Regions from separate parts of the Homo sapiens genome. Here region 1 is linked to region 2. Evidence: fine-mapped expression QTL. A gene starts in region 2. The other region holds a variant in brackets. All regions are shown on one strand. Distances are between the middles of the regions. Region 1 overlaps LRP5 (LDL receptor related protein 5). Region 2 holds the start of GSTP1 (glutathione S-transferase pi 1).

What was found. PIP is the estimated chance that this variant, and not a neighbour inherited with it, causes the effect.
Region 1: its variant is fine-mapped to the expression of GSTP1 in activated naive CD4 T cells (Schmiedel 2018, PIP 0.95).

The regions. Positions count from the first base shown.
Region 1 is chr11:68,317,741-68,320,643 of GRCh38, reverse strand. All of the region lies in intron 1 of LRP5 (LDL receptor related protein 5), which reads right to left. It overlaps LOC124900302 (a long non-coding RNA gene), which reads right to left. Exons shown (of 2, transcript XR_007062749.1): 1 at 1-2,903. Among named protein-coding and RNA genes, the nearest start is that of LRP5, 6.6 kb to the right of the region's middle. The variant AC/C (reference allele first, on the strand shown) is at 1,571.
Region 2 is chr11:67,582,558-67,585,460 of GRCh38, reverse strand. GSTP1 (glutathione S-transferase pi 1) reads right to left here and starts at 1,649. Exons shown (of 7, transcript NM_000852.4): 1 at 1,617-1,649; 2 at 1,292-1,327; 3 at 891-997; 4 at 689-776; 5 at 220-323. The coding sequence starts at 1,617. RefSeq lists silencers at 1,270-1,419, 1,737-1,879, 1,430-2,049.

The sequences.
Region 1 (2,903 bases), 740 kb before region 2:
CCAAAAATACAAAAATTAGCCAGGCGTGGTGGCGCATGCCTGTAGTCCCAGCTACTTGGGAGGCTGAGCCAGGAGAACAGCTGGAACCCGGGAGGCAGAGGTTGCAGTGAACCAAGATGGCAATCGCGCCACTGCACTCCAGCCTGGAGGACACAGCGAGACTCTGTCTCAAAAAAAAAAAAAAAAGAAGAAGAAGAAAAAAGAAAAGAAAAAGACAACAGAAAAATGGGCCAAGGATAAGTGTAGGCAATTTGCAGAAAAGTAAATACCAATAAACCAGAAATGAGGGTTGTGCAAATCAAAAGGTGTTATAATTTTTAACCAAACTGGACCAAAGAAAACACCAAAAACCAAAATCTTGTAATTGCCAGCATCAGAGAGGATATAGGAAAGTGTGTGTTCTCGTAGATGCTTGCAGGTATGAACTGCTACAGCCTTTTAGGAGTTATGTATGTATGTATGCTTGTATGTATGTATTTGAGACAGGGTCTCGCTCTGTTGCCCAGGCTAGATCTGTTGCAGTGCTGTGATCATGGCTTACTGCAGCCTTGACCTCCTGAGCTCAATAGATTTTCCCACCTCAGCCTTTCAAGTAGCTGAGACTACAGGAGTGTGCAATCATACTCAGCTAATTTTTTAAATTTTTTGTAGACATGGGGGGTCTCCCAATTTTGCCCAGGCTGGTCTCGAACTCCTGGACTCAAGTGATCCTCCTGCCTCAACCTCCCAAAGTGCTGGGATTACCTGGATGAGCCACTGTGCCCGGCCTCAATATCTTTAAAAACAGAAATGGACACACTCTTTGACTAGGAATGTATCCTATAAAAACACTTATACACATGCAGAGACACACGAGCAAGCATGCTTTGTAATAGCAATGAAGGCTGGAAAAACTCCTCAATCAGGTAAATGCTGTCAAGTGCACCTGTGTACTATGAAATGGCACTTGGCTTTTAACAAGAGCAAAGACAGAAAAGCAAAAGTACAAAGTAGGGTGTGATGGCACATGCCTGCAGTCCCAGCTACTCAGGAGGCTGAGGCAGGAAGATCCTTTGAGCCCAGGAGTTGGAGGCCAGGAGCTGGGCAATAGTGAGAAAAAATAAAATTAAATAATAATAATAATAAAATAGGCTGGGCACAGCGGCTCATGCCTGTAATCCCAACACTTTGGGAGGCTGAGGTGGGAGGATCGCTTGATCCCAGGAGTTCAAGGCCAGCCTGGGCAGCAAAGCAAGACACCCATCTCAACGACAAATTTTAAAAAATCAGCCAGGCAGGCTGGGCATGGTGGCTCACGCCTGTAATCCCAGCACTTTGGGAGGCCGAGGCAGGCAGATCACTTGAGGTCAGGAGTTCGAGACCAGCCTGGCCAACGTGGCAAAACCCTGTCTCTACTAAAAATACAAAAATTAGCTGGGCATGGTGGCAGATGCCTGTAGTCCCAGCTACTGAGGCACAAGAATCGCTTGAACCAGGGTGGCAGAAGTTACAGTGAGCCGAGATCGTGCCACCGCACTCCATCCTGGGCGTGAGTGAGACTCCTGTCTCAAAAAAAAAAAAAAAAAAAAAA[AC/C]AAGGAGCCAGGCACGGTGGGGTGAGGGAGGGCACAGAAGCAGCGCCTCTTCTGGGGGCACCCCCAATCTCTAGCGATCCAGAGGCCTCAGGATCCTGAAGGGAGAAAAAACGTGAAGCTCCGTGCTAGAAGAGACCATAGAGATTGGAATCAGCTGGTTCTATTTTACAAAAAAAGGAAACTGAGGCCCTCAGAAGGTGAGTGCCTCTCAATGCCCCACAGGGAGGCAGGGAGAGGGCTCTGAGCCCTGCAGGGCCCTGGATTCTTGCAATGGGGTGGAGTGGAGCCTGTGCCGCCCCCACCAGGCACCTTCTCAGGAGAGGAGCCGTTGTCATATCCTTGAAGGGGTCCTTGAGCCCCTCAAAAGGCTAAAAACCACTTTCCTCCTTGAGTGAACCTTCACCTCAGTTTAACCACAAGAAAAACTACATTAAGGCCCAGCGCAGTGGCTCATGTCTGTAATCCCAGCACTTTGGGAGGCTGAGGTGGGTGGATCGCTTGAGCCCAGGAGTTCAAGACCAGCCTGGGCAACATAGTGAAACCCTGTCTCTACAAAAAACAACAAAATCAGCTGGGCGTGGTGGTGCACACCTGAGGTCCCAACTACTTGCGGGCTGAGGTGAGAGGATTGCTTCAGCCCAGGAGGTAGAGGCTGCAGTAAGCGGTGACTGAATCACTGCACTCCAGCCTCAGCAACAGAGCAAGACTCAAAAAAAAAAAAAAAAGCAGGCCGGGTGTGGTGGCTCACGCCTGTAATCCCAGCACCTTGGGAAGCCGAGCGGGAGGATCAGGAGATGGAGACCATCCTGGCTAACACGGTGAAACCCCGTCTCTACTAAAAATGCAAAAAATTAGCCGGGCGTGGTGGCGGGTGCCTGTAGTTCCAGCTACTCAGGAGGCTGAGGCAGGAGAAAGGCGTGACCCTGGGAGGTGGAGCTTGCAGTGAGCTGAGATCACACCGCTGCACTCCAGCCTGGGCGACAGAGCAAGACTCCATCTCAAAAAAAAAAAAATTAAATCTCAAAAAAAATTACATTAAGGCAAACTAAAAGATGTTTAAAATATATATATTAAATTAAATACACTCCAATAGAGCAAATAAGAAAATACCCAGAAAACACAATCCCCGCACCCCCAGGACAACCTCCCAGGGGGTCCACAGCAAGAGACCCCAAGCACGAGAGACAGAGAACAGTGTCCCTGTGGCGGAACCTCTGGCCCATCAGGCTCTATTAGAAAATAAGGCTCTTGCCACTGAGAGAAAGAGGCACAGTCGCCCAGCAGCCACGGGCTCTGGCACACCACGAGTCAGGCCAGCAAAGTGTCAACTGC
Region 2 (2,903 bases):
CATGACCCGTTACTTGGCTGGTTGATGTCCCAGGCAATAAGGGTGCAGGTTGTGTCTTGTCCCAGGCCCCTGGGCCCCTGGCCCAGAGCTGACCCAGCCCCTGCACCCTGACCCAAGAAGGGGTCAGCCCAAGCCACCTGAGGGGTAAGGGGGGTGAGGGCACAAGAAGCCCCTTTCTTTGTTCAGCCCCCAGTGCCCAACCCTGGTGCAGATGCTCACATAGTTGGTGTAGATGAGGGAGATGTATTTGCAGCGGAGGTCCTCCACGCCGTCATTCACCATGTCCACCAGGGCTGCCTCCTGCTGGTCCTTCCCATAGAGCCCTGGGGTTGGGTGGAGGGGAGCAGGCCGCGTGACTGGGCGCCTGATCAACACACAGTCACTGGGGATGGGCCAACCAGGGGGCTGTCTGTGAGCCCCAGCCTGGGAGGAGGGGAAGAGGATGTGCGTGGAAGGATGAGAGACTGCCACACAGCAGGTGCTCAGAGCTCACCTGACACCTGGGAGGCAGCCTGGCACAGGGCAAGGATTGCAGGCACCCAGGCTTGACCTTGGGCAAACTACGTAACCTCAGTGGGTCTCAGTTTCCTCCACTCCAGAGGGCTGCGGGGCAGCTGATTTAAACAAAAGGGCTCCGGGGGCAGAGGCTTGCCCATGCCTGCCCTGGACTTGGAGGTTCAAGACTCACCAAGGGTGCGGCCCAGGTGACGCAGGATGGTATTGGACTGGTACAGGGTGAGGTCTCCGTCCTGGAACTTGGGGAGCTGCCCGTATAGCTGTTGGGGGAGGCATGGCTCAGGGAGGGGCACTGAGCTTGGGCGTCCCCCGATCCTAGTCACAGCCCCCTAAGGCCCAGCACCCCCTCCCCTTGCCCGGGCATGGTCACTTACGCAGGAGGCTTTGAGTGAGCCCTCCTGCCACGTCTCCACGGTCACCACCTCCTCCTTCCAGCTCTGGCCCTGATCTGCCAGCAGCATGCGCAGGGCCGCGCAGCGGCCTGCGGGGAGGGAGAAGTACGAGATGTGGGGACCGGGCCGACTCCGCCTCGCAGCAACCCGGGGAGGGGTCAGGAGTGCAGGGAGGGAACAGGGAAACAGGTTCCTCCGAAGATTTCACACAACACTGGGGCGGGGAGCAGGCATGGCGGGAGAGGCGGGGAACAGGAAGGAGGCCCGGGGTAAAAGCCACACGACGGAGGGATAAGGGGGTTCGGATCTCTCCGGGTGGGCGAGGGGCTGTGGGCTGCAGCCCCAGCCCCTGCCTCCCTTCCCTGCCAGACACATGCTCCTACCTCGAACTGGGAAATAGACCACGGTGTAGGGCGGCACTGCAGCGAACAAAGAAAAGTTTGCTGGAGCCCGGGGGAGGATGCCAAGGCGCGGTGAGCGCAGTCTGCCCCCCCTCCCCGCCCCCGGGGTCCCATCCCTCCCCGAGGCGCTCCGGGCCCCCTGAAAGCCGCTAACGGCACTGGGGACGTCCTGGGTCCCCTAGGCCCCCGTCCCGGGTCTCGAGGTGGGCGAGGAGCCCTGCCGGGAGCCCGGGCCTGATGCTGCGGGTTGGCCCCATGCTGGGAGCTCTGAGCCCCATCCCCGGGGACGCGGGCCGCGCGTACTCACTGGTGGCGAAGACTGCGGCGGCGAAACTCCAGCGAAGGCCTCGCGGCCTCCGAGCCTTATAAGGGTGGTCCCGCCCCGCTCCGCCCCAGTGCTGAGTCACGGCGCCGGCCGCTCTTCTGGAGGGTCCCGCGGACTCCCGCCGGCCCCAGCCCCGGCGGCCGCTGCACCCCGGGCGTCGGCCGCAGAGGGGCGCCCTGGAGTCCCCGGAGTCGCCGCGCAGCTGGCCGGGGAAGCCTTTCCCTCTTTCCCAGGTCCCCAGCGGGGCCTAGGGAGTAAACAGACAGCAGGAAGAGGACCGCAGCGAAGTGTGCGCAGCGAACTGGCGCGCCGGGACATCGCGGGGGGAAATTCCCTAAGACCGCTGCGATCCCGGAGCTTGCACACCCGCTTCACAGGGCAGGGGAGAGGGGTGGAGGCCGCTTAGAGGAAAGGAAATTGCTTTATTTTATTTTATTTTATTTTATTTTTTTATTTTATTTTATTTTATTTTATTTTATTTTATTTTATTTTATTTTATTTTATTTTGTGTTATTTTATTTTATTTTATGACGTAGTCTCACGCTGTGGCCCAGGCTGGAGTGCAGTGGCGCGATCTCGGCGGCTCACTGCAACCTCCGCCTCTCGGGTTCAAGCAATTCTGCTTCAGCCTCCCGAGTAGGTGGAATTATAGGTGCGTGCCACATCTGGCTGATTTTTGTATTTTTAGTAGAGACGGGGTTTCACCATGTTGGCCGGGCTGGTCTCGAACTCCTGACCTTAGGTGATCTGCACGCCTCGGCTTCCCAAAGTGCTGGGATTACAGGCGTGAGCCACCACGCCTGGCCGTCCAACTTTTATTTGAAGTTCTGGGGTACATGTAGAGGATGTGCAGGTTTGTTACATAGGTGTGTGCGCCATGATGGTTTGCTGTACAGATCATCCCATCACCCAGGTATTAAGCCCAGTATCCCTTAGCTATTCTTCCTGGTACTCTCCCTCCCCAGCACCCCGCTCAACAGGCACCAGTGTGTGTTGATCGCCGCCATGTGACCATGTGTTCTCATTGTTCAGCTCCCACTTATAAGTGAGACCATGCGGTCTCGCTGGTTTTCTGTTCCTGTGTGAGTTTGCTGAGGCTAACGGCTTCCAGCTCCACCCATGTCCCTGCAAAGGACATGATCACGTTCCTTTTAGTGGCTGTGCCTTAGGCTATTTTCTTTGGCTTTGCTGCCTACTTTCTGTTGATTTGCAGATCTCCATTTATTCTAGATATTGATCTCTTGTTGGCTTTAGACATGACAGACAGCT